Homo sapiens: one gene and its partner. The protein of the gene in region 1 purifies or fractionates together with the protein of each later gene. This does not show direct contact. Each region holds a gene or a part of one and is shown in the gene's direction. Other genes may lie near its edges.

Evidence for each region. Proteins that work in one complex are often made in the same cells at the same time.
Region 2: the proteins of ECD (region 1) and SCCPDH purify together in Homo sapiens (co-immunoprecipitation; one large-scale study listed by IntAct). This does not show direct contact.

What each region holds. Positions count from the first base shown.
Region 1 is NC_000010.11:73,136,445-73,141,445, reverse strand, and holds part of ECD (protein ecdysoneless homolog), read left to right. Parts: coding exon of another isoform or gene 1-59; intron 60-1,708; coding exon 1,709-1,815; intron 1,816-1,950; coding exon 1,951-2,137; intron 2,138-3,375; coding exon 3,376-3,443; intron 3,444-4,527; coding exon 4,528-4,742; intron 4,743-5,001. UniProt on the Homo sapiens protein: Regulator of p53/TP53 stability and function. Inhibits MDM2-mediated degradation of p53/TP53 possibly by cooperating in part with TXNIP. May be involved transcriptional regulation. In vitro has intrinsic transactivation activity enhanced by EP300.
Region 2 is NC_000001.11:246,737,123-246,741,618, forward strand, and holds part of SCCPDH (saccharopine dehydrogenase-like oxidoreductase), read left to right. Parts: intron 1-3,049; coding exon 3,050-3,179; intron 3,180-4,496.

The sequences.
Region 1 (5,001 bases):
CCACCTCCTGGGTTCACGCCATTCATCTGCCTCAGCCTCCTGAGTACCTGGGACAACAGGTACCCACCACCACGCCCAGCTAATTTTTTTTTTTTTTTTTTTTTTTAGTAGAGACGGGGTTTCACTGTGTTAGCCAGGATGGTCTCGATCTCCTGACCTCGTGATCCGCCCGCCTTGGCCTCCCAAAGTGCTGGGATTACAGGCGTGAGCCACCGCACCCGGCCAACGGAGTCTCGCTCTTGTCGCCCAGCCTGGAGTGCAATGGCACAATCCTGGCTCACTGCAACCTCCGCCTCCTGGGTAATACAGACTTTGCAAAAGTTAAAGAACTTCCCTGGGTTCTGGTTTTCTCATCTGTAAAACAGGATTATTACCTTCTATAATAGTAACAAAAGGACTCAATAAGAAAATGTATTTAAAGTGTTAGCATAGCATTTAATACATGCTAGATAAATTTTAATTGATGCTTTCCTTCTGGATCTTCTTTTCCTCGTATATAAAATATATATTATATGTATATTTTTATGTATTTTTAGTACGTGTTTTATATGTATATGTACTATTAACATAATACAACTGTATGTACATATATATACATATATAGAGAGAGACCCTGTCTCTGCATGTATGTATAGAAAGAATTATACGAGATCAGTGGCTTCATAATGATGTTCCATGGAGCCTGCTTCAGAGCCAAAAAGGAAGGCCAATTGTGTAGATCTCTGAGCTTCTATCCTCCAATTTATTTATTTTTATTTTATTTTATTTTATTTATTTATTGAGATGGAGTCTTGCTCAGTCGCCCATGCTGGGGCAGCTCACTGCAACCTCCACCTCCCGGGTTCAAGCAATTCTCCTGCCTCAGCCTCCCGAGTAGCTGGGATTACAGGCACGTGCCACAATGCCCAGCTAATTTTTGTATTTTTAGTAGAGACGGGGTTTCACCATGTTGGCCAAGTGAACTCCTGACCTCAAGTGATCTCCCCGCCTTGGCCTCCCAAAGTGCTGGGATTACAGGCATGAGCCACTGTGCCTGGCCTATCCTCCACTTTAATGAAGGCCATTTTTCTTTGACCCCTTCTGTATTTTAGAGTTCCTGGTAAAAGTTTTGTTTGAGAAAAAGGGATCTGCAACCTAAAAATATGCTTAAAAACAAATTAGAAGGCTGGGTGCGGTGGCTCATGTCTGTAATCCCAGCACTTTGGGAGGCCAAGGCAGGGGGATTATGAGGTCAGGAGTTCGAGACCAACCTGGCCAATATGGTGAAACCCCATCTTTACTAAAAATACAAAAATTAGCTGGGTGTGGTGGCGCATGCCTGTAGTCTCAGCTACTTGGGAGGTTGAGGCAGGAGAATCTCTTCAACCTGGGAGGCGGAGGTTGTGGTGAGCCGAGGTCGCGCCACTGCACACCAGCCTGGGCGACAGAGTGAAACTCTGTTAAAAACAAACAAACAAATTAGAGCCAGGTGTTTTGGCATGTACTTGTAGTGCTGGCTACTTGGGAGGATGAAGTGGGAGGATCATTTGAACCCAGGAGTTCGAGTCCATTCTGGGCAACAATGAAACCCCATCTCTTAAAAAAAAAAAAAAAAAACACTCCCCAAATTAGACTAGCTAATCCCTTCCAACCTTAAAATACTATGTATTTATGATTACTATTCTATGTTCTCTTATGAAGAAATACTCATGTTTTTTATTTTTCATAGTTCTCTTGCTATGAGCCCTGGTGAAGAAATCTTAACCTTATTACAGACAATACCATTTGATATAGAAGACCTTAAGAAAGAAGCAGCTAATCTTCCCCCAGAGGATGGTAAGTGATGGACCAGGATACAGTGGAAGGGTTAAAAAAAAAAAATTAAAATGTTCTACTCAGTCTCACAGGATCCTCTCCTAAGAGGACTTATGTGAATGTAGAATGGCAGTATTATGCTTTCTTCTTTTTCAGATGACCAGTGGTTAGATCTCTCACCAGATCAGCTGGACCAGCTGCTGCAGGAAGCTGTTGGCAAAAAAGAATCCGAGTCTGTTTCCAAGGAGGAGAAGGAGCAGAACTATGACTTAACTGAAGTCTCAGAGAGCATGAAAGCTTTCATATCCAAAGTCTCAACCCACAAGGGAGCAGAGCTGCCTCGGTAATTTGTGTTAAAGTATAAATATATAAATAGCTAGAACCCAAATGTTGAAGTCATAGTCATTGCCATTTCCACTTTTTTTTTTTTTTTTTGAGTAAATGAGTTGTACTGCTTGCTTTCTTTTTTGTGCCTAGTATAGTGATAACTTACTTATTTGAAGTCAGATTTCTAGAAGCCTCATCCTTTGCAATCCTTGAAATAAGCCAGAAAGATCACCCTAAAAACCATCATCCAGAACCACACAGGGAAACCATATACTTTACTCTTTAGTAGCTTTATGGGCTCAACATTTAACTTTCAACAAGTTCAGACCTCTGATCTCCCACCCTGCAAGCAGATTGGATACTGAAAAAGGAATTCATCAGAGGCAGAAATAATAACAGAAATATGAAACTACATTTGGCAAATAACAGGAAAAACAGGTAGATAGAATTATTACTTGTAGGCTGGGCGCGGTGGCTCATGCCTGTAATCCCAGTACTTTGGGAGACCGAGGCAGGCAGATCACGAAGTCAGGAGTTCAAAACCAGCCTGGCCAGCATGGTGAAACCCTATCTCTACTAAAAATACAAAAATTAGCCGGGTATGGTGGCGCACGCCTATAATCCCAGCTACTTGAAAGGCTGAGGCAGGAGAATCGCTTGACCCCGGAAGGCAGAGGTTGCAGTGAGCTGGGATCGTGCCACTGCACCGCAGCCTGGGTGACAGAGCAAGACTCCGTCTCAAAAAAAAAACAAAACAAAAAAAACTGTTACTTGTGTATCAAATATATCATTATTAGTGTTGATGCTCTTGAACCTGATGAAAGATATAAATTTATATTTGGTATTCTCTCTTTAAGAAAGCAGGGATAAGGGAAGATATGTTCTTGTTTATTTTTTAAGCTTTAGTTCTTAAAAGAACAGGCTTTATTTAAATTAACTCAAATAAATAATGGTTTTGCTAATGCTAGATATCTTATTGGGGCTAGAGAGTGGGTAGGTCCCTAAATCAGCATAAGCTAAATGTACATAAACAAGATGCAATTTTTACTTTTCATTTATCAGACTTTCCCATTTCTGTTGTCCTGCAAGGCCAGTAAACTCAAGGATTTTTAAAACTTAAACTACAACTTTTCTTGCTGTGCCTCCTTAGAAATTCTATCTTTGGTAGCTTTCCTAAGAATGGCACCACTTTAGAAAAGTTTCAAAGAGTTGTATTTAGAATAAATTAATTGTCTTTGTCCTTTAATATTGCAGAGAACCTTCTGAGGCTCCAATCACTTTTGATGCAGATTCTTTTCTTAATTATTTTGATAAGATTTTAGGTAAGTAGTGGTGTGATGTTGACTTTCATTTTGAAACTGTTAGTAGTATGGCTGTTGCTAGAGCATTGGTTTATGAGATATCTCAGAAGCCAAAATGTTTGCTTTCTCTTCCTGGTTTGAGTTGCTTTCAACCATGAATTACTACCCATGAATAATTTTGTAGAGGCTGCCTAGCTTAGTGTTTGACATATATAGTAGCTGCTCATTAATTTTTTTTTTTTTTTTTTGAGACAGTGTCTCGCTCTGTTGCCCAGGCTGGAGTGCAGTGGCACGATCTCGGCTCACTGCAAGCTCCGCCTCCTGGGTTCATGCCATTCTTCTGCCTCAGCCTCCTGAGTAACTGGGACTACAGGCGCCTGCCACCACACCCAGCTAATTTTTTTGTATTTTTAGTAGAGACGGGGTTTCACCGTGTTAGCCAGGATGGTCTCGATCTCCTGACCTCATGATCCGCCCATCTCAGCCTACCAAAGTGCTGGGATTACAGGCGTGAGCCACCGTGCCCGGCCTCATTAAATATTTGAGAGTGACTGAATGCTGTGTGTTTAAATAGGGTTTTACCTTGGCTCCCATATTATATTGTTCTTTTTTGGAATTACTGTACTTACAAATCAGTAATAAAAAGATAACTCAAAAAATAATTATAATATGTATATATGTACAGAACTGCAGAGAGAAAGATTGGGATACCCGGAAACTGCTAAAAGATGCTTACCTCTGGGGAGAGAGTGAGATTGGAGACAATACTTGTATGGCTTGAATGTTTACATCAAAATGTATTCATTTATTAGGTATTTTTAAAAATTTTTTAAGAAAAATATTTTAATTAATTGAATTCACTTTTTTTTAAGCTAAATCTTTTGATTCAGCTTGTACGCTTTTCCACAACATTAAATGCACACATATCTGCCAGCATTACCATTTGTAGAAGGGATTTTTGTGAAGTAGACTGACTGTGTGTATTAGTCTTTTTCTGTGGGTAACATTCTAATTATTTTGAGATGTGTAGTAACTAAATAATAATAATAATAATAATAATAATAATAATTACTAAGTGGCTCTTTCTTTCTTGGGATCTGTGTAGGGCCAAGGCCTAATGAGTCAGATTCTGATGATCTGGATGATGAAGACTTTGAATGTTTAGATAGTGATGATGACTTGGACTTTGAAACACACGAACCTGGCGAAGAGGCTTCCCTGAAAGGAACACTTGATAATCTCAAGTCATACATGGCCCAGATGGACCAGGAACTAGCACACACCTGCATCAGCAAAAGTTTCACCACTAGGAACCAAGTGGTATGTGTGTTTTTAACCTCTTTCTCTTTCTGAGTCTAGTATGTCAGATAGCTAAAACCATATTTTATCATAGTTTTTCTTTTTTTGGTGTGTGAGATTTGAAATAAATAAGAATGTTAATTGTTTTCCTAACTCTGGTAGGATAAAGGATCATAGACTTAATTTTCCAAAACATAAGCTTCATTATATTACTTATTCTACGTTATCTATCAGGATTTAAAATAAAAAGTCATATAATATGCTCAAATTAGAATGCGAT
Region 2 (4,496 bases), on another chromosome or scaffold:
CATGCCAATATGATATTAATATGCATTTGCAGTTTATCAATTGGTAAAATACTGGAAAATACTGAGACAGTGTAAATTACAAAAATTGATTCAAAAAGGAGGAAACAAATTAAAAAAAAAAAAAAGCCCAGGCGAGGTGGCTCACGCCTGTTACCCCAGCACTTTGGGAGGCTAGGTGGGAGGATGACTTGAGCTGGTGAGTTAACAAATTAGCCAGGAGTTGGTAGCACACACCTGTGGTCCCACCTACTCAGGAGAATGAGACAGGAATATCACTTGAGCCTGGGAGGTCAAGGCTGCAATGAGCTATGATCATGCCACTGCACTCCAGCCTGGGCAACATAGTGAGACCCTGTCTCCAAAAAACAAAAACAAAAAACAATTCCCATGTTATTTTAAATAACCCAGAACATAGAAAATGGTGAAAAGCTTTTAAGTCATCTAGAAACTATCATAAAAGTAGTATCGAACCCCCCCCTTTTTTTTTGATACAGGGTCTCTCTCTCTCACCCAGGCTGGAGTGCAGTGCTACGATCTTGGCTCACTGTAACCTCTGCCACCTGGGTTCAAGCGATTCTCCTGCCTCAACCTCCTGAGTAGCTGGGGGTACAGGTGCACACCACCACACCTGACTAATTTTTGTATTTTTAGTAGTGACAGGGTTTCACCGTGTTGGCCAGCTTGGTCTTGAACTCCTGGCCTCAAGTGATCCACCTGCATCGGCCTCCCAGAATGCTGGGATTACAGGCATGAGCCACCACGCCCAGCCATAATATCAAAACCTAATAAGGAGTTGGGCACGTTGGCTCATACCTGTAATCTCAGCACTCTGGGAAGCCAAAGTGGGTGGATCACTTGAGGCCAGGAGTTTGAGGCCAGCCTGGCCAACATGGCGAAACCCCATCTCTACTAAAAATACAAAAATCAGCCAAGCATGGTGGTGCACGTCTGCAATCCCAGCTACTCAGAAGGCTGAGGCATGAGAATCACTTGAACCCAGGAGTTGGAGGTTGCAGTAAGCCAAGATTGCGCCACTGCACTCCAGCCTGGGCAACAGGGTCGGATCCTGTCTCAAAACAACAACAACAAACCTATTAAAGAACCAGAGGGCTGGGTGCGGTGGCTCACACCTGTAATCCCAGTGCTTTGGGAGGCCGAGGCAGGCGGATCACGAGGTCAAGAGATCGAGACCATCTTGGCCAACATGGTGAAACCCCATCTCTATTAAAAATACAAAAGTTAGCTGGGCGTGGTGGTGCACGCCTGTAGTCCCAGCTACTTGGGAGGCTGAGGCAAGAGAATCGCTTGAACCTGGGAGTCGGAGGTTGCAATGAGCCAAGATCATGCCACTGCACTCCAGCCTGGCGACAGAGTGGGACTCCGTCTCAAAAAAAAAAAACCCAGAGTATTTAAAGAACTTTTACAAGACAATAATAGAAATAAAGACAATTTATTTTAAAAATGGGCAGGGGATGTAATCCTAGCACTTTGGGAGGCCGAGGCACGTGGATCACCTGAGGTCAGGAGTTTGAGACCAGCCTGACCAACATGGAGAAACCCTGTCTCCACTAAAAATAGAAAATTAGCTGGGCGTGGTGGCAGGTGCTGTAAACCCAGCTACTCGGGAAGCTGAGGCAGCAGAATCGCTTGAACCCGCGAGGTGGAGGTTGCAGTGAGCCGAGTCTGCACCATCGCACTCCAGCCCGGGCAACAGTGCGAGACTCCGTCTCAAAACAAAACAAAACCAAAAAGGCAGGGATGAGAAGAGACAAATCTTCTTTGTGGAAGAATTCCAAATGATTTATGTAGCTTCTCCACATTTATGTGCAAGCAGCTGTGTGTGTGACTGAGTGTGTTAATGTGTTTGTATGTGTGTGACTATGTTAGTGTGACTTAATGTGTTTGTGTGTGCATGAGCAAGTGTGTGTGTGTGATTGTGTTCGTGTGTGTTTGTGTATGTGCATGAATGGGTGTGTGTGGTGTGTGTTTGTGTCTGGTATGTGCTTGAACAGGTGTGATTGTGTTTGTGTGTCACCTTCTGGGAGAGGGAGCATAAATTGACAGTGGAGAAACCTGGTGAACACTGCCTCAGCCAGGTGTTCAAGTCAGCATTAACCCTGGTAAATCATGTTGACAGTGCGTAGCCCCGATGTGATATGATATGATAAGAATAGCACTTTACCCCTGTGGTCTCTTTCCAAAACTCATAATAATAATGAGAAAAGCATGAGACAAATTCCAGTAGAGGGGCACTCTACAAAATGCCTGACCAGTACTCCTCAAAACCATCAAGGTCATCAGAGACAAGGAAAGTGTGAGAAACCGTCGCAGCCAAAAGAAGCCGAAGGAGACGTAACAACCGAATGTAATCCTGGATGGGATCCTGGAGCAGAAAAAGGGGTTCAGTTAAAACTAAGGGAATCAGAATGAACTGTGAACTTTAGTGAATTAAATCATATATGTCAGTACTGGTTCATTAATTGTAACCACTGTTCATGTAAAAGATGTTAAAAATAGAGAAAACTGGGTTTCAGAGTACTTGGGAACTCTCTACTATTCAATTTTTCTGTAAATCTTAAACTGTTTTTAAAAAGGAATTTCTAAAAACAGGCAGAAGAGCAGAGCAGACATTATTCCCCTGTGCCCTCTGCCACCATCTACTTTCCTGCTCTCTGTCTGTACGTGTGCGGAGCTTTATGTCTGTGATGATGTTCATCTGGGTAATGCTGTTTGGGGTCATTTTTTTTTTGCTTTCTATTTTTTATATTTTAATATTTTATAATAGGCATTACTTTTATATTTAAAAGTCATTCTAAAAAAATTAAGTGTCATACAGTCAGACGAGCACAACTTCTGTACCACCTGGTGTGCAGTAGGCGCTGTATTTGCCGAATAAGTGGAAAATATTTTGACAGTTAATGTTTTGCTGCAGAGCCACACTGCTTAGCATTTTCAAAGTTTGGTTGCTTTGTTTTTAAAGATAAATTATTTAATACTGGTCTACATCTTTCTGCATAACTAATTAAAATTCTTATCCTGGATTTTTTAGTTTCTGGAACTAATGCAACTGAAGTATCATGAGAAAGCTGCAGACAAAGGGGTTTATATCATTGGAAGCAGCGGCTTTGACTCCATTCCAGCAGATCTGGGAGTAATATATACCAGAAATAAAATGAATGGTAATTATTGATCAATAAGCAATAATGGAATTTAACAGTACCGTGCAAAGGCTTCATGTTTCTAACTGTGGTGAACTAAAATCTAGTTGAAAAAAGAAACATAGCCATAAATGGGTAATATTAAACACATGTTTTGTTTTTAATATAGCTGCACTTTTAATAAAATGCTATTGAGACTATTGTTGAGACATGGATAATACTGTATTTTACAGTGATATATTATTGTCTCAGTATAGTTTGGGCTGTAAAATTTCTGGAAAACAACTTTGGCAACGTTATAAATTCAAACTTGCTTTGTTTAGGAATCAGCACATTTTAAAGCATAATTTGTATATTATAGTTAAAAGGTTTTAAATTTTTAACCGTCAAAGCTAGAAAGTATTGAACACAGAATTGGAGACACTTATTTAAGAATGGAGAAAATAATGTTACGATAAAACATTTGAAGTTACTGATGTTTTGCATATTTAAGAGTGTCTGGTTTAGAAAATTACCTGAGCAGGGTGTGGTGGCTTACACCCATAATCTTAGCTACTTGGGAGGTTGAGGCAGCAGGATCTCTCGAGGCCAAGAGTTCAGGACCAGCCTGGGCAACATAGTAAGACTCGTCCCTAAGAAATAAAAAAAAATTAGCCAGGTGTGGTGGTGCACACCTGTAGTCAGTCCCAGCTCCTCAGGAGGCTGAGGTAGGAGGATCACTTGAACCCAGGAGTTTGAGGCTTTAGTAAGCTATGATTGCACCACTGCACTCTAGCCTGGGTTACAGAGTGAGACCTTGTCTCTTAGAAAAAAGCAAAAAAACAAAAAAACAAAAACAAAAAACAAAACTGAAACAGGTAACTTCAGTACCATATAAAGTGTTCTAGACTTAAAAAATTGGAAAATGTTCCAGCATATATTAAAAAGTTAGCATAACTATGAAACCAAAGTCCAACAAAGATAGCACACACACACACAAACTACAAATCTTGCTTATGAAATTAAAAGTAAAAAGAAAATACTATATAAAATTTTAATCCAGTGCCATTTTAAAAAGTTTTTTAAGAGACAGGATCTTGCTCTGCCGTAGCTCACCGTAACGAATGCCTGGGCTCAGGCAGTGCTCCCTCCACAACCTCCTAAGTAGCTAGGACTGCAGGCTTATGCCACCATACTCAACTAATTTTATAAAATTTTTGTAGAGATGAGTTCTCACTATGTTGCCCAGTTTGGTCTTGAACTCCTGGCCTCAGGTGATCCTCCCACCTTGGCCTCGCAGAGTGCTGGGATTACAGACGTGAGCCACCATGCGCAGCTCATCCAGTGGCATTTTAGAAG